7 linked regions of the Homo sapiens genome follow. The protein of the gene in region 2 interacts with the protein of the main gene of each other region in a biochemical or structural test. Each region holds a gene or a part of one and is shown on either strand. Other genes may lie near its edges. The genes, in order: SYK, CALM1, SCN5A, MIP, LMO7, AKT1 and DRD2.

Region 1 (3,500 bases), on a different chromosome or scaffold from region 2:
CTGTGAAAAAGGGCTACTACCAAATGAAAAAGTAAGTTGCTATGTTCCACCAGCCTCACCCTCACATGAGCTCAGGTTCTAGACATGACTGAGAATAACAAAATGTAACCTGGCATGACTAAACCCTTTTTTTATTAATGCTACCATTCTTGTTAATTTCTGGTACTATTATAATGAAAGCGTCCATTACCTTTAATGGCAAAAACTGCAATTACTTTTGCACCAACCTAATAGTACATGCACCTTATGGAAAATTAGGAAATAGAAACAAGCAGAAACATAAGAAAATAAAAACATCAAATTGGCATGGTGGCTCATGCCTGTAATCTTAGCAATTTGGGAGGCTGGGATAGGAGGATTGTTTGAGGCCTGGAGCTTGAGACCAGCCTGGGCAACATAGCAAGACCCTGTCTCTACAAAAAAAATAAATAAATAAATAAATAAATAAAACATAAAAAATTAGCCAGACATAGTAGTGCACACATATACTTCCAGCTGCTCAAGAGGCCAAGAAGCCAAGGCTGCAGTGAGCCATGATTGCACCACTGCACTCTAGCCTGGGTAACAAAGCAAGGCCCTGTTTCAAAAAACAAAACAAAAAAAAGAAAAGAAGAACATCATATTTGTATAATACCATCCCAACACTACTACTGTTAACTAAACATTACTACTGTTAACTTAATCTTATTGTATATATTTTTAGATCTTTATTTGTACACACAGATATTATTTAATTAAAACAAAATCATTCCATTATAACAATAGTTTTTACATTTATTTTCTTTAATTTTATAGTTACATCTCATTTTTCTTACATGAAAATTATTGATTCCAAATATGATTAGTATAATTATTTATTGGCTTTATCCTATGATTTCAGATAACAATACATATTATACAACAGTTAAAATTGCTAAATTTCGAAAATATCTTTGTATTTCTTTTGGTCTTTAGAAGGTACCCAACATAGAATGTACAAGTAAAACTACTGGTTTCTAAAGTCCTTTGAAATACACCCTCTGTTTGAATTGGTATGATACTAATATGAATGTGGTTAGATTTAGTAGCTTCATGGTATTTCAAATGTAAGGGATTTTTGTAAAAAAAAAATTCGTGAGTAGGTAATTTTTATGATTCAAGGGTTAAAAATATAGACAAAAATATACACAGACATGCGTGCTTTCCGGCCGGGTGCCGTGGCTCATGCCTATAATCCCAGCACTTTGGGAGGCCAAGGTAGGTGGATCACCTGAGGTCTGGAGTTCAAGACCATCCTGGCCAACATGGTAAAACCTCGTCTCCACTAAAAATACAAAAAATTAGCTGGGTGTGGTGGCATACACCTGTAGTCCCAACTACTTAGGAGGCTGAGGCAGGAGAATCACTTGAACCTGGGAGGAAGAGGTTGCAGCCAGCCAAGATCACACCATTGCACTCCAGCCTGGGCAACAAGAGTGAAACTCTGCCTCAAAAAAAAAAAAAAAAAAAGAAAGAAAGAAAAAAGAAATGCTTGCTTTCCAATCTGTCCCTTCGATTTGTTTTTGTGCATGTGTGTGTGTGTAAATTAGATACACATACATGTATGTATACACACACAAACATACACACATATGTATACATTCACAAGTATATACATGCGCACATATATACACACACAATCAAAATTGGCTGTGATACTTATTTTAAAATATATGTTTGTATATCACAGTCATTTTGTACAATGAGTAAAAATGTTTCTGTATTAATCCTAAGCTTTTTCAGATTATGAAAGGTTGTGATCTTTATTCTGTGCTTAAATTTGTGAATTAACATAGACATGACTGTGGACATAATTTCAACTAGAGAATTTGGGGAGAGGAGAGGCTCTCTCGGTCAATTTGGGGCAAAATGATGTCTTTACAATACTGAGTCTTTCAATCTATAAACACAGCCCATCTCTCCATTTACCAGGTCTTCTTCAGCCTCTCTCAGGAGAGTTGTTTACCTTTTCAATGTATTACATTGAAATATATGCTTTTAAATTCTGCACCTAGAAATTCACTTTCAACAATTATGAAAGGCATTTTATATTCACATTCATTACATGTAATCTGAGATGGTGAATCCCAAGATGTTACAGGAATTCGTACATGTCATCGTTGGTGAAGTTTATTTACAAGTTATTTAAATATTTTACAGTTTAGGGTTTTTGCTTGGTTGGGACATTCTTCAGTACTGTTCTTCACCATTCTTTTTATTTTATATTATTTTTTAGAAACAGTGTTTCACTGTGTCACCCAGGCTGGAGTGAAGTGGCAAGAAGCTCACTGCAGCCTTGAACTCCTGAGTCCAAGTGATTCTCCCACCTCAGCCTCCCGAGCAGCTGGGACTACAGGCTTGCACTGTCACACCTGGGTGATTTTTTTTAGAGATGGGGGTCTCACTATGTTGCCCAGGCTGACCTTGAACTTCTGACCTCAAGCAATCCTCCCCTTTCAACCTCCCAAAGTATGGGGATTGTCAGCATGAGCCACCATGCCCAGCCCCCACCATTCTTTTTTAGTAATGGAGTATTACTCTCATTGTCTATAAAATAAGGGAATATAGGTTGGAAGGCCAGCCATCCATTACAGGCTTCTGAAGACACATTGCCACTCTGTGGCAGGTATTTCCGTGGGACTGTTTCCACAGGGGGATTATGCTTCACAGGATAAGATTATCTAGAAGTGAGGCATTTTGGAAAGTTTCTTGTGTGTTATGATTTCTCTTGCAGAGTTGTGAAAACCGTGGCTGTGAAAATACTGAAAAACGAGGCCAATGACCCCGCTCTTAAAGATGAGTTATTAGCAGAAGCAAATGTCATGCAGCAGCTGGACAACCCGTACATCGTGCGGATGATCGGGATATGCGAGGCCGAGTCCTGGATGCTGGTTATGGAGATGGCAGAACTTGGTCCCCTCAATAAGTATTTGCAGCAGAACAGGTATTGTCAGGTGCCCCCACACATCTGGAAGCTATCCCCTAAGGGACAGGGCCCACCCCTGGATGGGCCGAGCAGCCTGATTTCCTTGGGAAGCCTTCCCACCCTCCTGTGCCTTCCTTTATTGGTCCATACTCAGGGACCTTGACAGAGGGACAGGGAGACATAGTCTTTGGATTCAGCTCTGTTAGCTCTAGTTGTTCAGAGAAGAACTCATTTGACAGTTTTGTCTTTTTTTTCTTCCTGTAGTCATTCAGTCTTGGCCTAGTGATAGACTCAGCCTCAGAATATCTTGACATGGAATCTCCTTTCTCACTGGGAAGAACACTTTCTTTTTAAAGAAACATTTTAAATAAATGCTTTTCTAAGAGGTGACAGTTAAGTCTTATCTGTTTGGCTGACCTTATGTTCTCATGAGTGATGACTTCTGAAAATACCAATCACTGCTAATTGATTACATCCATCAAGGGAGTAATTGTGTTCTTCTCATCTAAAGCTGTTGTTGAGATGAAGAAACTCACTTGGAGTAAGACAGAATGAT
Region 2 (3,500 bases):
GGAAAGATTCAGCCTGCGGAGTGGTGTATGCTATTTTTCTCTTGAACTGTACAGCCCTTCATGACCCTTCCATGGGCTTGAATCCAGATGTGCAGTTTCCTTTGTATAATTAAATACTATCCTGGGCACTGATGATGAGTTTGAAATTATGTGAAATTGCCCTGTGAAGTGTTTGAACGTTTTAGACCTGCAGATGATTGAACCTAGTAAGATAGTCTGCCCCTTTGTCCTAGTACATGTTTACCGTTCCGTACAGTGGTTCTGAAATGATTACTGCAGAGCAGCGTTAATGGAGTGCTTACTTTACATGAGCTTTTTGTTTTTTAATTCGAGGTAATGGCACCATTGACTTCCCCGAATTTTTGACTATGATGGCTAGAAAAATGAAAGATACAGATAGTGAAGAAGAAATCCGTGAGGCATTCCGAGTCTTTGACAAGGTAATCCAGCATCTACATAGCAGATGGTACTTAAGTATGGCTTCTTCCGCTTTCACTTCTAAAAGCTATAATAATGTTATAGACAGAAGACTTAAATCTAACTGCCTGAGCCTCTGATCTCACTTTCAAAAATCCTCCTTATGGTAACCGTATCAGGGGAGGGTAGGCATAATAAATAGGAATTTTGGACCATGTTTCTTGACTGTTACTTTGAATTGTTGTGAGCTTTTGCAAATCCTGTTTTCTGCATTAGCTGTTTGCATGTATTTAGTAGGTTAGAGGTGGGAACTAGAGATCAGAGAATTGTTTATGGCAGCAGAGTTAGCAGTAACTTGAGAGGGCATAGCTAAGTCAAAGACCTACTTCCCCACACTACATCATTAGCAATAACAATTGCTGAATGTTCACAGGATGGCAATGGTTATATCAGTGCAGCAGAACTACGTCACGTCATGACAAACTTAGGAGAAAAACTAACAGATGAAGAAGTAGATGAAATGATCAGAGAAGCAGATATTGATGGAGACGGACAAGTCAACTATGAAGGTAAAACTAAATTCTCTGAGCTCAGTGTTTCATAGTCTTACCTTTAGATCTGTAAGCAAGCCAACTGCTTCACTAGACAGCCTTTGACTTTATTTTATGTACAGTAAAGATGTTGTGTTCATTAAAGCTGTTTTCAAAGATAACCAAAAGTTACTATTATATTTGTCTTTTCAGAATTCGTACAGATGATGACTGCAAAATGAAGACCTACTTTCAACTCCTTTTTCCCCCCTCTAGAAGAATCAAATTGAATCTTTTACTTACCTCTTGCAAAAAAAAGAAAAAAGAAAAAAGTTCATTTATTCATTCTGTTTCTATATAGCAAAACTGAATGTCAAAAGTACCTTCTGTCCACACACACAAAATCTGCATGTATTGGTTGGTGGTCCTGTCCCCTAAAGATCAAGCTACACATCAGTTTTACAATATAAATACTTGTACTACCTTAATGATAAGGACTCCTTAAAGTTCCATTTGCTAATGATTAATACACTGTTTGGGCTGGCCAGTTTTTCATGCATGCAGCTTGACGATTGAGCACAGTCAGGCCTTTGTATTAAAAATGAAAAATGAAAAAACAAATTCAAAACCTATTCAAATGGGTTCTAGTTCAATTTGTTTAGTATAAATTGTCATAGCTGGTTTACTGAAAACAAACACATTTAAAATTGGTTTACCTCAGGATGACGTGCAGAAAAATGGGTGAAGGATAAACCGTTGAGACGTGGCCCCACTGGTAGGATGGTCCTCTTGTACTTCGTGTGCTCCGACCCATGGTGACGATGACACACCCTGGTGGCATGCCCGTGTATGTTGGTTTAGCGTTGTCTGCATTGTTCTAGAGTGAAACAGGTGTCAGGCTGTCACTGTTCACACAAATTTTTAATAAGAAACATTTACCAAGGGAGCATCTTTGGACTCTCTGTTTTTAAAACCTTCTGAACCATGACTTGGAGCCGGCAGAGTAGGCTGTGGCTGTGGACTTCAGCACAACCATCAACATTGCTGTTCAAAGAAATTACAGTTTACGTCCATTCCAAGTTGTAAATGCTAGTCTTTTTTTTTTTTTTTCCAATAAAAAGACCATTAACTTAAAGTGGTGTTAAATGCTTTGTAAAGCTGAGATCTAAATGGGGACAAGGCAGGTGGAGGGGAGGCCAGTGTACATGTAAATGCCCACAGCCCAGCATTGGGTTTCCCTCCCAAGGCCCCAGCACCAACCTCTGAGCCCAAGACCTTGCCTGAAAACAAGCAGATACCGATTGCTTCATCCTATTTATGGACATGTAGGTCTAGTTGCATTTTCACTGGGGGGAGGGGGGAAGGTGAATTATGGTAACTTTTAATGATCTATTCAGGCAGTAGAGCTCTTAAGGAAAAAAAAAAACCCACTTTCTCTCAAGCATGTATTTAGGGGTTGTTCTCAATTGTGCTGCTGATTACCTGTCTTATGTAACTACTTGAGACCATCTGCAAGAGACATGATTTAGTGTGTCTGTAATTCAATCTTCGCTGTGTGTGGTAGAAGCAGTAGTCACTTTTGTAAGCCAGTCTCTTCATGCCTAAAAGACACTACCAGTCACCTTTGATTCGCGACTTTTAATTTATGATTATACTTAGCCTCCTCCTCCTTTTTTTTTTTTTCCCAAGTTGACTTGACTTTGCTTTTTTCCCCCCAAGTAGAACTAATGCTAGCTTCCAGCTTGAAAGTAAAACTCCAGTGTGGAGTGAATTTTGTGTCTAATTATAAACCTGTAACCAAAACTCAGACATCTGGTACTGGTCTTTGCATTGAGATTGGTCCCTGTAAAACCCCCTTTAAAAGCATATTGCATTTAGTACAGAGCTCTTTTTTGAAATGAAGGCTGGAGATGTGCATTTTTCACGGTGTTAACTGGTTGTATCTTATTAGCAAGGAGATTGGGGTTTTGAGTGTTTGCGTGGGTGGTTTCAATTTGCCAGGGAACAGTGGCAGGCTGCTAGCAAGGCAGTGAGAAGCTCTTGGCAGCCAAATGGGTGCATTCAGGGCTGATTTATAGAGACCCTTGGCTTCTCCTTCTCCTACTCCCTGTCTTTCTGGCATTTTGTAGCTTGTTAGATTTTCTGCCAGAGGGGTGGGTCAGAGCAGTGGAGGGGAGACATCGCCCATGTGCTTCTGCTACTGGTCCTTGGGCTGGGTGGTTGGTAGAGGAGATGTTGACACTATGAGCTAAGGGTTGGCTTTTGTAATTACCTGAATCTGAAAGGAATGCCTAAGGTTACCTTGGGGTTTCTCTTCTGGTGAGATAGGGTTCCTGGTTTGAGTAAGTTAATGTCCTGGATATTTCTTGTGGCAGGGGGTGGTCAAAGAGCCTGATTGCTGACCCAGTCTCAGGCCTGTGGTCGATGACCTCTCGGTAGTTTCAAAGGGGGCTGGAGGGGGATATTTGACTTGTTTTTTCGAAATGTAGCCTTCTAACCCTCAAGTCTTTAGAAGCTGGGTGGACTCTTAGTGGTCCTGCAGCGTATCCTAAA
Region 3 (3,500 bases), on a different chromosome or scaffold from region 2:
AAGGAGGCAGAGTTAGGAGAGCGATAAGAACCATCACAGAGAAGCTGAGAGAAGACACTGGCCATGGCGTGGCATCAGGGAGCACTGATTTCTGGGCCAGTGTTTCATGCCCTTCGATGGGCACATAAATCATCTGGGCTTCTTAAGATGCAATGGGCTGGGGTGGAGCTGAGATTCTGCATTTCTGATAAGCACCTAGGAGATCCCAAGGCTGCTGGTCCTCAAACCACACTTTGAATAGCAAGGAGCTAAAAGACCTGAGTTCTGGCCCAAGCTGGGTGGGCAAGATACTAAGCAGATCCCCTCTGGCCTGAGAACCCAAGATGTAGAAGATGGGCCTAGGACAGCTCTATTGTGTAGGTACACACTGAAGATTAAGGAATGAGGGGGCTGAGAAGGAACCCTGCAAAGGACCCATTTTTCTGGGTCACAGATGCAGACATGGAGACTCAAACAGACAGGAGCAGGCAGAGTCCTAGCATGCCCAGTGGACGCAATCCTGGAAGGGCCGCCTCTCCTTGGCTCCTTGCCATATAGAGACCCCCCCCCCACCGCCAACCCCTGCACAGTGATGCTGGCTGGAAGACAGAGGTGCCACCAGTAGCCACAGTCTCTGTTGTTTCCCACAGGCACTGTGCTCTCGGACATCATCCAGAAGTACTTCTTCTCCCCGACGCTCTTCCGAGTCATCCGCCTGGCCCGAATAGGCCGCATCCTCAGACTGATCCGAGGGGCCAAGGGGATCCGCACGCTGCTCTTTGCCCTCATGATGTCCCTGCCTGCCCTCTTCAACATCGGGCTGCTGCTCTTCCTCGTCATGTTCATCTACTCCATCTTTGGCATGGCCAACTTCGCTTATGTCAAGTGGGAGGCTGGCATCGACGACATGTTCAACTTCCAGACCTTCGCCAACAGCATGCTGTGCCTCTTCCAGATCACCACGTCGGCCGGCTGGGATGGCCTCCTCAGCCCCATCCTCAACACTGGGCCGCCCTACTGCGACCCCACTCTGCCCAACAGCAATGGCTCTCGGGGGGACTGCGGGAGCCCAGCCGTGGGCATCCTCTTCTTCACCACCTACATCATCATCTCCTTCCTCATCGTGGTCAACATGTACATTGCCATCATCCTGGAGAACTTCAGCGTGGCCACGGAGGAGAGCACCGAGCCCCTGAGTGAGGACGACTTCGATATGTTCTATGAGATCTGGGAGAAATTTGACCCAGAGGCCACTCAGTTTATTGAGTATTCGGTCCTGTCTGACTTTGCCGATGCCCTGTCTGAGCCACTCCGTATCGCCAAGCCCAACCAGATAAGCCTCATCAACATGGACCTGCCCATGGTGAGTGGGGACCGCATCCATTGCATGGACATTCTCTTTGCCTTCACCAAAAGGGTCCTGGGGGAGTCTGGGGAGATGGACGCCCTGAAGATCCAGATGGAGGAGAAGTTCATGGCAGCCAACCCATCCAAGATCTCCTACGAGCCCATCACCACCACACTCCGGCGCAAGCACGAAGAGGTGTCGGCCATGGTTATCCAGAGAGCCTTCCGCAGGCACCTGCTGCAACGCTCTTTGAAGCATGCCTCCTTCCTCTTCCGTCAGCAGGCGGGCAGCGGCCTCTCCGAAGAGGATGCCCCTGAGCGAGAGGGCCTCATCGCCTACGTGATGAGTGAGAACTTCTCCCGACCCCTTGGCCCACCCTCCAGCTCCTCCATCTCCTCCACTTCCTTCCCACCCTCCTATGACAGTGTCACTAGAGCCACCAGCGATAACCTCCAGGTGCGGGGGTCTGACTACAGCCACAGTGAAGATCTCGCCGACTTCCCCCCTTCTCCGGACAGGGACCGTGAGTCCATCGTGTGAGCCTCGGCCTGGCTGGCCAGGACACACTGAAAAGCAGCCTTTTTCACCATGGCAAACCTAAATGCAGTCAGTCACAAACCAGCCTGGGGCCTTCCTGGCTTTGGGAGTAAGAAATGGGCCTCAGCCCCGCGGATCAACCAGGCAGAGTTCTGTGGCGCCGCGTGGACAGCCGGAGCAGTTGGCCTGTGCTTGGAGGCCTCAGATAGACCTGTGACCTGGTCTGGTCAGGCAATGCCCTGCGGCTCTGGAAAGCAACTTCATCCCAGCTGCTGAGGCGAAATATAAAACTGAGACTGTATATGTTGTGAATGGGCTTTCATAAATTTATTATATTTGATATTTTTTTACTTGAGCAAAGAACTAAGGATTTTTCCATGGACATGGGCAGCAATTCACGCTGTCTCTTCTTAACCCTGAACAAGAGTGTCTATGGAGCAGCCGGAAGTCTGTTCTCAAAGCAGAAGTGGAATCCAGTGTGGCTCCCACAGGTCTTCACTGCCCAGGGGTCGAATGGGGTCCCCCTCCCACTTGACCTGAGATGCTGGGAGGGCTGAACCCCCACTCACACAAGCACACACACACAGTCCTCACACACGGAGGCCAGACACAGGCCGTGGGACCCAGGCTCCCAGCCTAAGGGAGACAGGCCTTTCCCTGCCGGCCCCCCAAGGATGGGGTTCTTGTCCACGGGGCTCACTCTGGCCCCCTATTGTCTCCAAGGTCCCATTTTCCCCCTGTGTTTTCACGCAGGTCATATTGTCAGTCCTACAAAAATAAAAGGCTTCCAGAGGAGAGTGGCCTGGGTCCCAGGGCTGGCCCTAGGCACTGATAGTTGCCTTTTCTTCCCCTCCTGTAAGAGTATTAACAAAACCAAAGGACACAAGGGTGCAAGCCCCATTCACGGCCTGGCATGCAGCTTGTCCTTGCTCCTGGAACCTGGCAGGCCCTGCCCAGCCAGCCATCGGAAGAGAGGGCTGAGCCATGGGGGTTTGGGGCTAAGAAGTTCACCAGCCCTGAGCCATGGCGGCCCCTCAGCCTGCCTGAAGAGAGGAAACTGGCGATCTCCCAGGGCTCTCTGGACCATACGCGGAGGAGTTTTCTGTGTGGTCTCCAGCTCCTCTCCAGACACAGAGACATGGGAGTGGGGAGCGGAGCTTGGCCCTGCGCCCTGTGCAGGGAAAGGGATGGTCAGGCCCAGTTCTCGTGCCCTTAGAGGGGAATGAACCATGGCACCTTTGAGAGAGGGGGCACTGTGGTCAGGCCCAGCCTCTCTGGCTCAGCCCGGGATCCTGATGGCACCCACACAGAGGACCTCTTTGGGGCAAGATCCAGGTGGTCCCATAGGTCTTGTGAAAAGGCTTTTTCAGGGAAAAATATTTTACTAGTCCAATCACCCCCAGGACCTCTTCAGCTGCTGACAATCCTATTTAGCATATGCAAATCTTTTAACATAGAGAACTGTCACCCTGAGGTAACAGGGTCAACTGGCGAAGCCTGAGCAGGCAGGGGCTTGGCTGCCCCATTCCAGCTCTCCCATGGAGCCCCTCCACCGGGCGCATGCCTCCCAGGCCACCTCAGTCTCACCTGCCGGCTCTGGGCTGGCTGCTCCTAACCTACCTCGCCGAGCTGTCGG
Region 4 (4,163 bases), on a different chromosome or scaffold from region 2:
AGCAACTCTTCCTGCCAGTGGATAGGTTAGATGGACCCTCTACCTTCACTATAACTCTCTTTCTGTCCATCCCCAAGCTGGGTATTATGAGGAGAAAGCACAGCCCCTGATCTGTGTTCCTTCTCTCTCCCCACAGGTGTACTGGGTAGGACCCATGCTGGGCACCATTCTTGCAGGCCTCACCTCGAATTTCTGCTCTCTGGTGCTTCATGAGAAAAGTTTGTGGCCGGTATGACTTGCCACTATGTGGAGATGGTAGAACCTATCAGTATGTCCCATTCTACCTTCTCCATCACCACACAACCCCACGCCTAGGTCCCAAGTCCCTCACCAAGCCCGAGCACAACTGAACCTCTTTCCCCAAACTTTCCTTCCCCATATTATCCTTTTCCCTCTCTTTGATCGGCTGTTTCCCCAGATCTGATCCCAGCACACCCATACCTTTCCCTGGGGATCAAGGCTTAGGGTGTGCTGATCATGGCTGTATTAAAGGACATTAGACCTTCCCATTGCTTCATAGCCATGACTGTTTCCTTCCTTTCAGTACTTCTTGCTATGACCATGTGAGTTAGGAAAGATGAAATACAAGCTGATTCTAAGGTTTAACTACGAGTCCCTTTCTTATTCCTATCCCTCCAACCCCACTCCCAGCCCATGCAGGGATGATAGTGTCTTCTCTCTGTCGGTCCCTGTAGTTTAAAAAGCCAGGCCTAGGGTTTGAAAAGGGAGGTGCTGTCATGGACTGGGGGTAGGGAACCCGGGCTCAGAGAAAGCCAGACGCAGCAGAACTATTTTGTCCCAGAGCTGCAGGGTCCACAGATTCCAGCCCAAACTAGCCAATGGGAGAAAGGCTTCTAATCCCTGGGAACTAAAGAATTCTCTTTAGTTATCCAACTTCCCTGCTGAACCCCACTCCTTACCACTCCCCCCAACCCTTACCCCTGGCAGACTCAGAGGAGGCTGAGGCCCCCAGGAGCTCAGCCCCAAATGCCATGAAGTGAGCTCAGCTTGATGGACCTTCCAAAGAGAGCTGAAGAGTATTCTAATGTTGATGTCAATCAGGACAATGAACCCCAATTTTGACACACACAGAAGGGCAGACTCTTCCAGTCCTGCTGTTCTTCACCCCCACTTCTCGTAGTCTCTCTTGCTGTGACCCCAATCCCACCCTCACTGCCATGGCTCTCTCGGCTCATCTCCCAGTTGAGAAAGGCGGGAAAATCCAGCATTTTTACCATGTAGGGGAGGGGACTTAGCCCTCCACAGCTGTGAAGGGGTTAAGAGGCTGGGCCTGCTACCTCAGCCTGCCCCTCCCAGGGATTAAGAGTCCTCTATAAAGGGGACTGTCCACCCAGACAAGGCCATGGGGGTAGCAGGGACCCAGGCACTGTGACCATCCCCCCTGCCATGTGGGAACTGCGATCAGCCTCCTTTTGGAGGGCCATATTCGCTGAGTTCTTTGCCACCCTCTTCTATGTCTTCTTTGGGCTGGGGTCCTCACTGCGCTGGGCTCCTGGACCCCTGCATGTTCTGCAGGTGGCTATGGCATTTGGCTTGGCCCTGGCTACACTGGTGCAGTCTGTGGGCCACATCAGTGGAGCCCACGTCAATCCTGCAGTCACTTTTGCTTTCCTTGTGGGCTCCCAGATGTCCCTGCTCCGTGCCTTCTGCTATATGGCAGCCCAGCTCCTGGGAGCTGTGGCTGGGGCCGCTGTGCTGTATAGCGTTACCCCACCTGCTGTCCGAGGAAACCTAGCACTCAACACGGTAATGGTTGGCTGAGAGGGGATGGGGAACCTGGTGTCCTGTCTCTCTATTGCCCTGACTCCCTGACTGGTGCAGGTGAATCAGCTCCCCTGGGGTCTGGGACAATATGTGCATGTGTGAGCATGTGTGTGTTGAAGTGGTGAGGATTGACAGGTGGTTTAGAGCTTTAAGGAAGGCATAGGGCCCTGGACTGAGAATTAAGAAACCTGAGTTTGAGTTTCAGCTTTCCTTCCAACTCCTTGCAGGTTCTTAAGGAAACTTATTTTACCTTTCAAGGCCTCAGTTTCCTCATACATGTAAGTGGCTGCAATCATTTCCATCATGAAGGAGCACTGTTAGGAGATGGTAAGATGCAAATACAATGATTATGAAGGGGGTTGTATTATCCTTCCTCTCCACGGACCTGATGCCGTAACGAGATCCTTGCCGGGGAAGTCTTGAGGAGGTAACACTGTGGCAGCCCTCCTGAGCTGTCTCTCTTCTTCTTCCTTTGCACAGTTGCACCCTGCGGTGAGCGTGGGCCAGGCAACCACAGTGGAGATCTTCCTGACGCTCCAGTTCGTGCTCTGCATCTTTGCCACATACGACGAGAGGCGGAATGGCCAACTGGGCTCCGTGGCCCTGGCCGTTGGCTTCTCCCTTGCCCTGGGGCACCTCTTTGGGGTAAGCAGGAAGGAGAGCAACTTCTCATTCAAGGATTCCGGGGCCCCTAAACCTTTCCCAACTTTTAAGGGTTCTTCCTGCCTACTTCACTGTCAAACATGAACATTGTCCATTGCACTCTCTACTGGCACAAAGGAATCAACTCTGCCCTATCCCTCTCTTGTGACTGCTATATCTAGTCCTTCTTGACCCCAAGGTAGAAATGAACGTATCATGGCTAGACATGGGCTTTGCCTATGGATCCATAGTCTGTTCCCAGACAGGGCATCAGTTGCCCTCACCCCATTGCAGGAACCCCTGGAGAGTCATGCAGGCTGTCCCTCTCCACTTGCTGCTGGCTGGAGAAAAGATGGCAGCTCTCAGGGGCAATGTGGGTTGTGGGGAGAGAAGCTGGGGTGCAGTAGGGGGGTGTCTCAGTTACAACTGTCTCTTTTGCAGATGTATTATACTGGTGCAGGCATGAATCCTGCCCGCTCCTTTGCTCCTGCCATTCTCACTGGGAACTTCACTAACCACTGGGTGAGTGAAGGGAGAGGGGCAAGATCCTGAAGCCCTTCTGGATGGTTGTGGACTGCAGGTTCCAGGCTGGATTCCTGCTTTCCTTCTGCGTGTGTTGGCTGCTGTACCAGCACTCAGCTAAGGGGGCTGTCAGAGAGTTTGGCATGCCTGTGTGAGCAGGATTCATGATTTTGCTAGAAGGAGAGGCTCTTGCTCATATTTTTCCTTCTCTGGTTAGTCAGGGAGTATGCACTGAGTATTCACTGGTTGCTGAACTAGCGGGTATGAAGAGAGACAACTAAATATGAGCAGAATAAATTCTGCTCTCAGAGATCAAGATGTGTTGTGAGCACAGATGGGCCTCAGCCCCATTCCAGTTCTAATACGTTATCGGCTTTGTGTGTGACCATGGGCAAATAATCACTCTGTGCTTCAGTTTGTTTTACTATAAAATGGGACATTACGAGAAATGTGTGAAAGTTATATGTGAGAAACATTTAGCACAGAATCTGATATAAAGTAAGCACTCAATAAATATTGGTTATGTTGATGTTGTGCAAGCCAAACATATGGAAATAATTTAAAAATTTTTCAAAGCTGTACACCCATTTTCATAACAGCATTATTCACAATAGCCAAGAGGTAAAAGCAACCCAAGTGTTCCTCAGTGGATGAATGGATAAACAAAATGTGGTATATACATAAATGGAATATTACCTGTAAAAAGGAAGGAAATTGTGACACATACCACAACATGGATGAATCTTGAGGACATTATGCTAAGTGAATAAGCCAGTCACAAAAAGACAAATACTGTATGATTACATTTATATGGGGTATTTAGAGTACTCAAATTCACAGACGCAAAGTAGAAGGATAGTTACCAGGGGCTGATGGGGGTGGGGTGGAATAGGCAGTTGTTTAATGGGTATAGAGTTACAGCTTTGCAAGATGAAAAAGTTCTAGACATAGGTTGCACAACAATGTGAATATACTTAACACTACTAAACTGTACACTTAAAAACATATATATATTTTTTTGAGATGGAGTCTCCCTCTGTCACCCAGGCTGGAGTGCAGTGGAGCTTGATCTCAGGATCTCAGCTCACTGCAACCTCCGCCTCCTGGGTTCAAGCAATTCTCCTGCCTCAGCCTCCTGAGTAGCTGGGATTTCAGGCGCCTGCCACCACGCCCAGCTACTTTTTGTATTTTTAGTAGAGATGGGGTTTCTCCCT
Region 5 (3,500 bases), on a different chromosome or scaffold from region 2:
GTCATATAATTTACCCCTCACTACAGGGAACACATCCAGCCACTGAAATGGTTGTACATGTTGACATTTCCACCACATACTTGTACTCTGGGTACTTTTATTTCCTTTAAGAAAAGCAACTATTTCTGAGAGCTGCTTACATTATAAAGTTATATTTAATTTACAAATGAAAATTTTTCTGAAAGTTACAATTCAACATGCTTAAAGCTGCAAAGAGATTTTTAATCAAGTTAAAACAGCTTTCCTATGACTTGAGAGTAGCAAATGTTTAAGCATCATGCAGATGAGCTGGAAAGCGGATAATGTGCCTTTGCATGGCACACGGAAAGCATGCAGGGACCCTGGTTTTTAAAATCAGTGGCTAACAAGTACTTGCAATTTGTTGCCTGTGGCTCAGTTACACCTTTGGCATCTAGAATGGTTATACTGCTTTACATTTAGTAGCTTCCAACATTTCTGAATTATCAAAGTTATAAAAAGCTATCAAAACTAGAGATTCTTATAGATGAAGTAAATCCTCATAAGGGAAGATACTTAGCTACTGAGGCTTGAGCAGATTAAAACATCTGTCATCCTTTAACTCTCTTCCTCTTGCTCAAACACTATTAGCCCTTAGATTCACAAAGTTACAGAAAGTTTGGTGGAAAATATTAAGATATAGCCACCTTGTGATTTTGTACTAAGAATGAATAAATGATTTACTGTAAATGTAGTTTTTGCCTGTAATCCCAGCACTTTGGGAGGCTGAGGTGGATGGACCACCTGAGGTCAGGAGTTTGAGACCAGCCGGACCAATCTGGTGAAACCCCGTCTCTACTAAAAATACAAAAATTAGCAGAGTGTGGTGGCATGCAACTGTAGTCCCAGCTACTCAGGAGGCTGAGACAGGAGAATTGCTTGAACCTGGGAGGTGGAAGTTGCTGTGAGCCAAGATTGCGCCACTTCACTCCAGCCTGGGCGACAGAGCGAGACTCCATCTCAAAAAAAAAAAAAAAAAAAAATGTAGTTTTTGCAACAGTGATATTAGAAATTAAAAATATTTTTGCAGTTTTTGAAGGTCTATTTTGCACTATAAATATAGCCATGTTATAACTTTTTTTTCCTAATCAGGAATCTTGAAAATATAATACTTCCAAATACCACCTAGGGAAGTTTAATGCATCCCTACTAACGAAGCTCCCAGTTGGCCGATTATAGGATAATGTCAACTGGGTGTATTCTAAACTTGAAGTAAATGCTAATATTCTTTTTCCATCACAGATTTTCTAAAATGTAGTAATTTGGGCTTTAGCATCCATAAATCAGAATTTTAGTCTATGTAGCAACCAAATACCAAAATACATATACCTAATCTTAGGCAAGTGCTTTTGTGACTTTTAATCAACTCATTAAATTTTTAAAAAGGAAAAAAGAAGGGATGAAGCTGAAGTTTAAATTTTTAATAAAACAAATAATTTTATCTTGCACTGGGCACCAAGACACAGAAATATTACCATTAGGTTGCAAGATAAACATTTCCCACTTAAAAAATATCATGCACAGCACACAACAACCCCATTTAGTGACATGCCATGCCAGAAATACAGTAAGTTATACAAAGAACAAACAACACGCACAGATTTTTTACTGTGAACCACACAACTTACCCATTCTCACCATAAATCTTTTGAAAGAGTCTAAGAAACCAGAAAACCAAAAATTAAAAAGTCATTTTTCCCAGTCATATTAGTTTCTAAACGTTCAATGTCTTCCACTTAAGAATCTAACTGGAGACGGACAAATCTCAAAAGGTCACTTCTTCCATCACATTCTTGATCATGTCTCAAGTTCTCATCAATTTCCTATCTCAGGAAATTCAGATTAAGCAAAATGAAGAATTTCCTCAATTTACTCTGAGCTAACAAATCCATATGAAAAGGCTTCCCATTGTCAGGAACTGTTAAGTTAGATTTGGATCCTCTAATTTTATTCAACCTAATCAGATTTGTCCATCTCTAAGTTCCACAAACTGAACATTCATCAAAAAGGCAAGTTGCATAATACAAACTATCAAAATGGCCATGATTACATACACATAAAATTCAGCAGACAACAAATACCATTCATGCATTTTAACATCAACGTTTACTCTGAACTTCATAAATAAAAATAAGTTACAAATGATAGTCCAAGAAACCTAGGCCAAAACCAAAAATTAAGTTAAATGAAATTTGCAATGCCATATTTTAAGGGAAAATTTCACCCCCCCAAAAAAATCAGACACTCTAAAATGTGAGCAACACATAAAACCAAACTATAACCAGACTGTTACAAAAATGCCTGAACATGAGAAGTCCAGAAACTTCATATTGGTGGATAGTACCACAGTACTGCTTAAGTCAAAGGCAAGGTTTATGTATATACAGTCTTAAACAGGCCTAAATAAGTTATTTAGAGATATGCAAATATGGAATTGCACTTTTTGTACAAAACGACTGAGGGTTTTTCAAAGCAAATTAAATTTTACGGGATGCTTCAAAATGGCACGCGACATGCAGAGTTGAGCAACACGATGAGCTGCTTTCTCGCATGAGAAAAGTTACACAAGACCATCCATTACAAGCAAAATCCTTGCAGAAACACACTCTGACCTCTCCACCATCAGCCTTTTCTTGTGCCTAAGTCTGCTGGCCTCCCGGATGGCCTCCCATCTCTTCAAGTCAGCCTCACTGCAGGGGCCAGGGGTGAAACTGATGGGAGGCACGGTAGTTCCCAGTTTCCAGGACTGAATCTTACGTGTCAGCATGTCATCTTTCTTCTGCCGATATGAAGGAACTAATATTCTACAGCTATTACTTTTTTCTTTGGATGGGCATGTCCTTTCAAGTACACAGAGAAATTTTGCTTGAATTTCTGGAGGAAGAGTCCAGGGTTCGGGAAAAGGGACTGGGTGGTATCTATCTGGGGCCCCAGACAGCGGCACTTCTTTCTTCTGTGCTGGAATTCGGCGAACAATCATATCATCTTTTTCCAAATCCGGAAGTACAAGTTCACCTTCTCTACACTGTAAAATTATATCTCGCTCTACAGAATCATCTTGCTCAGAGAACTTTCTAAAGTCTTCAAAAGCTCGGAGAACATATGGATTTGCATGGAAAGCCCCAGTCTTTCTGACAAAGAAATCATCATTCTCTAAGTCAGGATCCAGGGCTGCCATCTCGAGGTCATCTCTTCTATAGCCTGGTGCATAAGAGAGATTCTTCCTGCGGGTTATGAGCCTTGGGCCAGAAGTGGGATCAATTTTGGTATGTGTTTCAGAAGACAAGATGTCATCAGAGTATGTTTGGAGGGCCTGAAGCAGTAAAAACTGACTGATGCACAGAGAGGAAAAAGGAAAGAGAATCTTATTAAGCTTAGGGAGAAAAGGTAATTAGCAGATCGACTAGCCAAAGGTGATTAGCAGACCAACTAGCCAGTTACTGAGGGTAAATCATTTTAGAGGACCATTGTGGGGACTCTTG
Region 6 (3,500 bases), about 14 Mb from region 2:
GACAGCTCCAGACTGGCATGCAGGCGGGTGGGCGTGAGCAGCGGGGTGGCCCAGGATGGGGGACGGGTGGGGTGGGCTGCATGCAGCCCCCTGAGCCTGCTCTGCTCTCACTGAGCGCCCCTGCCTGCCCGCTGCACCTGCAGGGGCCCTGTGGCTGGGGGAGGGGACGTGGGAGGCGGGGTGGAGCTGCGTGGCACGTATGTGCGTGTATGTGCACACTCGGGGGTGTGCGAGATCCCAGGTCAGGGACAGGAGCCGGCACCCAAGGGTGGCAGGACCACGCCTGCTCGGCAGCCCACTGGCAGGGGCATGGAGGGCTTGCGGAGTGGGTGGGGTCTCCTGATGAGTGCTCTTGGGCACAGGGGCAGATTCTGGGCCCTGGATCATCCTCCCTGCAACTGGGTGTTGGCCGTCCTCCAGAGGTGTCAGGCAGCTATGAGTGGGCTGTGGCTGTCCCCTTCCTGGTCCACCCCAGACCTGACAACAGCCTCTTCCCACACTCAGGCCCTGCTGGGTGGGGTGTCCCCACCCTCCACCAGCATCCCCCCAGCAGCCCTGGCTTGGGCAGAGAGAGGGCTGGTCTTGTGGAGACCACGCCCCGTGGTGCTGGTGGGAAGGGCATTGGGCAGCTGGGGCCGGGGTAGGAGGGAGAGGTCACCTGGCCGGGGGGTGGCCATGTGTCGAGCCTTGGTGGCTCACCTCTATTAAAGAACTCCCCCGTGGCTCCCTGGAAAGTAGAATGCCTGCTGGGATGCCCATGACCCATGTCCTCTGAGCTCCCCTGGGGCTGCTGCCCTGCTGGGACTTCCCTGTGCACCAGGGAGGGCTGGACGCGTCTGGGCTCACCACGAAGACCCAGCAGGACTGGGTGGTGGGTGGTCTGGTGATGGGACAATTGCTTGTCCCCCACATCCCTCCAGGTGTCCCTGTCTGGGGCTCAGTGTGGCATGAAAACCCAGGCCCCAGAGCTCAGGGACCCCAACCCCTTACCCTGGCCCCCTCCCTAACCCCTGCCCAGTGACCCCTCAGATGAAGCAGTTGCCTAATTAGTAAGTTCCCTGTTGTTCAAACTCCTTGCTTGGCAAAATGTAAGTGGAACATTTTTTTCCGAGTGTCAGTATGAAAAATGGTACTTGCTGGGCTATCACCGAGGACAGCTGCTCTGATTCTGAAGTGTGAACGCCTGCGTACGGCTGATGCTGCAAAACTTGAGGGAGAATGTTCCCGTGTACCTGAATGACCCACGGGTGGGACGCGGCAGGGCCGACGGCGGCAGGGCCTGAGTGTGGGTCTCAGCCTGGGGACTTGGCACCCTCTGTGCCCTGGGGCCCCTGCCCAGCTGGCTGGGCCACCTCCGTGTCTGGCTTCATCGGCAGTCCCCAAGACGGTGCTCCAGGCCCCTAGACAGGGAGTGCGATCCCACGGCAGTGGGCAGTCCTGTCCCGCGAGCCCGGCCCTCAGTCTGAGTGGTGCTGACCTCTAACTGTGGACGCCATGCTCCATCCTCCTGGTGGGTGGCGGCGGGGCGGGGGGGGCGGCCATGCTGGGCAGCCCACACAAGCCACTGTCACCTGCTGTCGCCACCTGGCCGACCCTGGTTGATTGGGGAATGCTGTCAGCCCCGCAGCCCCTGTGGCCATAGCTGGGGCCCGAGCTGCTGCTGGTGCCTGCTGGGGACTGGCTGGTTTAGGGCTGCCTCCTCCAGGAAGGCTGTGCAGACTGGCCCAGACCTCTTCCCAGCCTCCTGTCCATGGTACTCCATCCCCTGCGTCCAGCTGGCCCAGCCCGTTTTCAGACACAGCTCGGGGTGGCTCTTCTGAGAGGGGCGCTGTGGTGGGGCGAGTCTGCCTTCCCGTTGACCCAGGGCCGTTTCTGTCGCTGGCCCTAAGAAACAGCTCCCGTACCGCGCCTGCCCCCTGGGACTCAGGCATCCCAGGCACATCTGTCCTGGCACACCCAGTTCCTGCCTGGCTGCCTGGCGAGGGTCTGACGGGTAGAGTGTGCGTGGCTCTCACCACCCGCACGTCTGTAGGGGAGTACATCAAGACCTGGCGGCCACGCTACTTCCTCCTCAAGAATGATGGCACCTTCATTGGCTACAAGGAGCGGCCGCAGGATGTGGACCAACGTGAGGCTCCCCTCAACAACTTCTCTGTGGCGCGTAAGTATCCCCTTGGCCTCTCGGGATTCAGATTTGGGGGGTTGGCTGGAGCCCTCTTTGCCCACCAGGCCCCACGATGGGGGTCCCCTGGAGCCTCCAAGTCCTGGGCTGGCAAGCAACAAGCACTGGCTGGGTGGGGGTCTCTGGGCCGAGTCCCGAGGCTGGCTGGGCAGGGGTCTCCGGGCTGAGTCCCAAAGCTGAGGCTGGCTGGGTGGGAGTCTCCAGGCTGAGTCCTAAGGCCGAGGCTGGCTGGGCAGGGGTCTCTGGTCCAAGTCCCGAGGCCGAGGCTGGCTGGGCAGGGGTCTCCGAGCTGAGTCCTGAGGCTGGCTGGGCGGGGGTCTCTGGTCCGAGTCCCGAGGCCGAGGCTGGCTGGGCCGGGGTCTCTGGGCTGAGTCCCGAGGCCGAGGCCGGCTGGGCAGGGGTTTCTGGGCAGAGTCCTGAGGCCGAGGCTGGCTGGGCGGGGGTCTCTGGGCCGAGTCCCAAGGCTGGCTGACCCTGGAGCAGTTCCCTGGTGCCCATGCTCTGGAAGCTGGAGGGTCCGGACAAGTGGCAGCAGAGCCCAGTCTCAGGGTGGACAGCTGCCCCGGGGGCCCCTCCTCCAAGGGGGTTAGATAGAGCCCATCAGGGCCTCTCCTTGGGAAACCCCTTGGGTGAGGGGGCAAGAGTCCATTGGGGTCTCCAGCTCTGAAGCCTCCATCACTCGAGGAAGAGCTCGTGCCTCTCCCTGCACAGGCTCTCAGCCTCCAGACCCCATGGCAGAGCCTTTGCTTCCCCTCTGTGAGGCTGCCTCCTTGCCCATGGAGGGGCAGGTGCAGAAAGGCCAGCGGGGGACCTTGGCCGGAGCATCCCACAGAGATGAGAGACATGTGACGCTCCCTGCTCCGCCCTGCTGTGGCTTTATTCCTTACCTGTAGCGGGGGCAGGTGCGACCCTACCCATGTCAGACGGGAACCCTGGCATGGAGACCCAGGCGCCCTGCTAGGTGGGAGGCTGGGGACACGTGGGCCTCCCAGCATGGTCCCCATTTTCTGTGTCCCTGTCCTGGAGCCCAGCTCTGCCTGTGGCAGCCAGAGACACGGGTTGGGCATGCAGGTGTGACTGAGTGGCTAATTAGGGCCCAGTTGTGGGCCATCTGTATGTGGCAGGGCTGGGTAACTGCAGGCCTCTGGGATCTGTCTCAGGCAGGTCTGTGGTGCAGAGCGAGGTGCCCACCAGGGGCTGGCCTTAGGTTCCATCCCCATGTGCTGCATCGGCCCCTCCCCTCCAAGTAGCTCTGCCCTCCTTTCTTTGAGGCCTGCGGTCCTCCGACTCCCTTGAACTTGCTGGACCCCCAGGTTCT
Region 7 (3,500 bases), on a different chromosome or scaffold from region 2:
GAGGCTGAGGCAGGAGAATTGCTTGAATCTGGGAGGCAGAGGTTGCAGTGAGCTGAGATCATACCATTGCACTCCAGCCTGGGCGACAGAGCAAGACTCTGTCTCAAAAAAAAAATAAAATTAAATTAAAACAAAAACAAAATAGGAAATAGAAGCTTTGGAGAAGTTGCCTTTCTTCACCCAGGTCACAGGGAGAAATGCTGATGGAGAAATCCCAAAGCAGATATTATTCTCCAGGAAGACACCTTCAGAGCCAGCGAGCAGATGTGGGAGCATTTAGGGATCATCGGTGGGCACAAGCTGGATCCTGCCCCTTTCTCTGCCCAGCTTTCTAGGATGGCATGTCCAGGACTCAAGCAATCTGGGAGTCTAGGTGCATGGGAAGGCATGGGATCAGGCATTTAGGAAAGTGCCGGTGCTCTGCCCACTGAACCGTTACCTTCCTTCCCTGAGCAGGAGAGGAATTGACCAGTGCCTCTGAGGCCATCCCTGCCTGAGAGGGAAGGGGTTGTTGAAAGAAAATGAGAAAGCTTTGTAGGTTTAAACAGGGGAGAAATCTAGATGAGGACGCTCAGGTGAGGAGGCGAGACTGGTGGAAAGTGGCACACCTCCCTGTCCCTGGGCCCCCAAGGGGCTCGTGCGCTTACTGTTCTCACCACCACCCCGGGCCCAAGGGAGCTCTGATCCATCACCCCTTGGCTTCCTTTACTACAGCCAATGCAGGCTGCAACTTCCAAAATGACCTGACTGGATATTAAGGAAGAACCAAAAGGAAACACAAATACAAAACCACATAAAAATATTCAGTTGACACAGGCCAGGAGTCCAATTCCCCCTGGATCCATGTTTATGAGGGCCCCTAGACTCTGTCCATGCCTTCTTAATTCTTACGCTTGATCCCCTCCTTCTTCCCTCTTCCAAAGGAGGGTCCTAGGTCTCAGACCATAGGGAAAAATGGTAGAGCAAACAAACTCTCTGTGCCTCAGTTTCCTCATCTGGAAAATGCAGATAATAATAGTATCATACATCATAGCATTGTTGAGGATCGAATTAGTTGATGTATGAAAAGTGATTAGAATGATACATGGCTCACAGTGAGCACTGTGTAAATGTCAGCCATGGCGATGATGATAAAGATGAAGATGACAATAGACATCCAGCACTGCTCCACATAGGGAGGACTCTGTCTTTCCTATTCACCGCCCCCTTGGGATAAAGAGGAAGGAGAGAGTACTCCCTATGTTCGCCCCAGGCAAGTAGGTACCCTCTTCCCAGAGGAACGTGTGTTCTACCCAGGGCTCTGGGCATGGCTTCTGTTAGCTTCCAGACCCCCTGTCCCTACCCAGGCACTTGGGTAGGGACAAATCCATACATGGGCTATAGGGGGTTCCCAGGAATCTGTAAGTCTTTCGAACAGATCCTTTAAACATGCTTGTTCACCTTATTTTAAAGGTGAAGCTGAGTGTGTCAGGGGAGGAGGGTGCAGAAGCCATTCTCAGAGGGCAGGGCTCAGACTTCCCCACAGCATCTCATCAAACTAGAGCTGGGCACTGAGCCTTGTTTAATGGACATTATCTCAGCGATTTGTTGTCCCTAGAGAACGTCCCAGGTGACGTCTCACCCTGCCCTGATGTCCTATCAGCGCACCCTCACAACCACGCACTGTCCCCTCTCTAATACATGCTCTTGTCATCCAGATTTTTTCCTCCTGTTCCATTTCCAGCAATGCCATGCCAACATCTGTCTGGCTTAGGACTAAGTGTGCGTTATTTATCTTGCTAAGTGTATGAAAAGCACGCTGGTTTTGGAGTGAGAGGACCAGGTTCAATTCCCAGCTCCATTCCTTTCCATCTAGATGCTATTGGAAGAGTTCCTGATGTCCACATGTGCCATTCCATGTCAGCCTCACAACCCTTTAAGGAGCGGCTTCCTGTGTGCATTTATTTTCTAGATGAGGAGATTGAGAAGATGAACAAATATCTCAGAGTTATTCATTCACTCAGTCAGCACTGACTGAGCACTCCGAGGTCTTACCCCAATCCTTGTGCAATGGGCTAAGGCACTGACCTGCTGGGGATGCAGAGGTTGACAGGGCCCCTACAGTGCAGTCTGCTGCCGGTGACAGTGGAGCAGTCCCCATAGGAGGTGTGGGGCATAAGGCCCAGCATGAGGGTGTCAGGGAAGACTTTCAGGGAGAAATGATGCTTTCGGAAAAATTATGCAGGAGAGGGAGGGAGACACTTGCATTCTCAAGAAAGCCACCCAGCAGGGAGAGGGAGTAGCTGGCTGGAGGTATGGAGGAGAGGTGGTTATGTCATTTGCCTCTGAGGCTTACTGTCTGCATTCTAAGATATAAGCATCAAGTGTTTGGAACAGTGCCTGACACATGGTAAGTCCTTAGTATTATTACAGTTATTAGGACTTAGCTGAGCCAGCTCAGGGCCTGTACTGCAGGTCTCAGCTTTATGTGAGCAAGAGCATTAAGGAATGATGCCTGGATGCCTGGGGGTGTGAAGAAAAGAGCCTTGGGTTCGACTAGGGAACCTGGGGCCACTCCTTCCTCTGCTACTAAATCACCAAGTGATCTTGTTCTGTTTTCTTCTCTGACCCTCCCTAGTTTTGTCCACCCTTGAAATAATCATCTTTCCTTTTCACATTTCATGCTTACCAAGTACTTGTCACCTAATTATCTCCTCTCTTGATAAGCTAGATGGTCCCTTCCAGGGCAGCTTAGTAGAGAGCATGGGATGTGATGTTTCAGATTCCAGCTCTGCTGCACACCTGCCAGGTGAACTTGGCCACGTTACATGGCCTCTCTGGGCTTCAGTTCCCTCACCTATGAGTGGGATAAGCAAGCCCTTCTTGTAAAAGTTTTAAGAACGATACATGAGATAAAGTGCAATGCCCACAGTAGATGTCTTATGGACAGTGGCCACCAATGCATTTTCTTGAGTCTTTAAGTTAGCAGCCCTAACTACTCTCCAAGGCAGCTTCCCCTGGGACCACAGAGGAAATCTCTTTGTTATTCTGGGCTCCAGATAGGCCAGTGCAAGGAGAGATTTAAGATGTCCATGAAGGCAGGACTGTGTCTGAATTGCTCACAACTGTGTCCAGGAGCCTAGGATAGAGGCTGGAACACAGTAATTTGCTCAATAAGTGTTTGTAGGAAAGAAGGGATGGCAGAAAGGAGGGAAGGAGAGGAGGAAGACAGGGAGGAAGGCCCTGATATCTCAACCTAGATCCCCAGTGGCTCCCAAGTACTGGTCCCAGGAGGGGCTTCAAAGTGGGATGTAAATCAGGTAGTGCTGGTTTTCTGCCCAGTGGTACCCTAAAGGCACACTCTGTTTATGCCAGGAAAGCCCTTTACGTACCCTCCTGCCTCCACCCGCAAAATGGGCATCCAGCTGTTAGCTCCTGCCAAACTGGTCAGCGCAGCAGCACAGGGAGCTGGGAGAGAGGCCCTGGTACGGGGCCCCCATGTGAGCTCCCAGGAAGACAGT

What was found.
Region 1: of the proteins of CALM1 (region 2) and SYK, one has a biochemical effect on the other in vitro, tested with the Homo sapiens proteins (2 studies listed by BioGRID).
Region 3: the proteins of CALM1 (region 2) and SCN5A are reported together in a solved structure, tested with the Homo sapiens proteins (2 studies listed by BioGRID, with this or other methods).
Region 4: the proteins of CALM1 (region 2) and MIP form a complex in vitro, tested with the Homo sapiens proteins (2 studies listed by BioGRID, with this or other methods).
Region 5: the proteins of CALM1 (region 2) and LMO7 form a complex in vitro, tested with the Homo sapiens proteins (one large-scale study listed by BioGRID).
Region 6: the proteins of CALM1 (region 2) and AKT1 form a complex in vitro, tested with the Homo sapiens proteins (one large-scale study listed by BioGRID).
Region 7: the proteins of CALM1 (region 2) and DRD2 form a complex in vitro, tested with the Homo sapiens proteins (one study listed by BioGRID).

What each region holds. Positions count from the first base shown.
Region 1 is NC_000009.12:90,874,819-90,878,318, forward strand, and holds part of SYK (tyrosine-protein kinase SYK), read left to right. Parts: coding exon 1-31; intron 32-2,752; coding exon 2,753-2,962; intron 2,963-3,500. UniProt on the Homo sapiens protein: Non-receptor tyrosine kinase which mediates signal transduction downstream of a variety of transmembrane receptors including classical immunoreceptors like the B-cell receptor (BCR).
Region 2 is NC_000014.9:90,403,529-90,407,028, forward strand, and holds part of CALM1 (calmodulin-1), read left to right. Parts: intron 1-333; coding exon 334-440; intron 441-850; coding exon 851-986; intron 987-1,160; coding exon 1,161-1,189; 3' UTR 1,190-3,500. UniProt on the Homo sapiens protein: Calmodulin acts as part of a calcium signal transduction pathway by mediating the control of a large number of enzymes, ion channels, aquaporins and other proteins through calcium-binding. Calcium-binding is required for the activation of calmodulin.
Region 3 is NC_000003.12:38,548,688-38,552,187, reverse strand, and holds part of SCN5A (sodium channel protein type 5 subunit alpha), read left to right. Parts: intron 1-629; coding exon 630-1,867; 3' UTR 1,868-3,500. UniProt on the Homo sapiens protein: Pore-forming subunit of Nav1.5, a voltage-gated sodium (Nav) channel that directly mediates the depolarizing phase of action potentials in excitable membranes.
Region 4 is NC_000012.12:56,451,858-56,456,020, reverse strand, and holds the start of MIP (lens fiber major intrinsic protein), read left to right. Parts: upstream 1-1,363; 5' UTR 1,364-1,407; coding exon 1,408-1,767; intron 1,768-1,973; exon of another isoform or gene 1,974-2,109; coding exon of another isoform or gene 2,110-2,112; intron 2,113-2,265; coding exon 2,266-2,430; intron 2,431-2,868; coding exon 2,869-2,949; intron 2,950-4,163. UniProt on the Homo sapiens protein: Aquaporins form homotetrameric transmembrane channels, with each monomer independently mediating water transport across the plasma membrane along its osmotic gradient.
Region 5 is NC_000013.11:75,807,330-75,810,829, reverse strand, and holds part of LMO7 (LIM domain only protein 7), read right to left. Parts: intron 3,351-3,500; coding exon 2,631-3,350; intron 1,677-2,630; coding exon 1,647-1,676; intron 1-1,646.
Region 6 is NC_000014.9:104,778,749-104,782,248, reverse strand, and holds part of AKT1 (RAC-alpha serine/threonine-protein kinase), read left to right. Parts: intron 1-2,032; coding exon 2,033-2,161; intron 2,162-3,500. UniProt on the Homo sapiens protein: AKT1 is one of 3 closely related serine/threonine-protein kinases (AKT1, AKT2 and AKT3) called the AKT kinase, and which regulate many processes including metabolism, proliferation, cell survival, growth and angiogenesis.
Region 7 is NC_000011.10:113,419,899-113,423,398, reverse strand, and holds part of DRD2 (D(2) dopamine receptor), read left to right. Parts: intron 1-3,500. UniProt on the Homo sapiens protein: Dopamine receptor whose activity is mediated by G proteins which inhibit adenylyl cyclase. Positively regulates postnatal regression of retinal hyaloid vessels via suppression of VEGFR2/KDR activity, downstream of OPN5.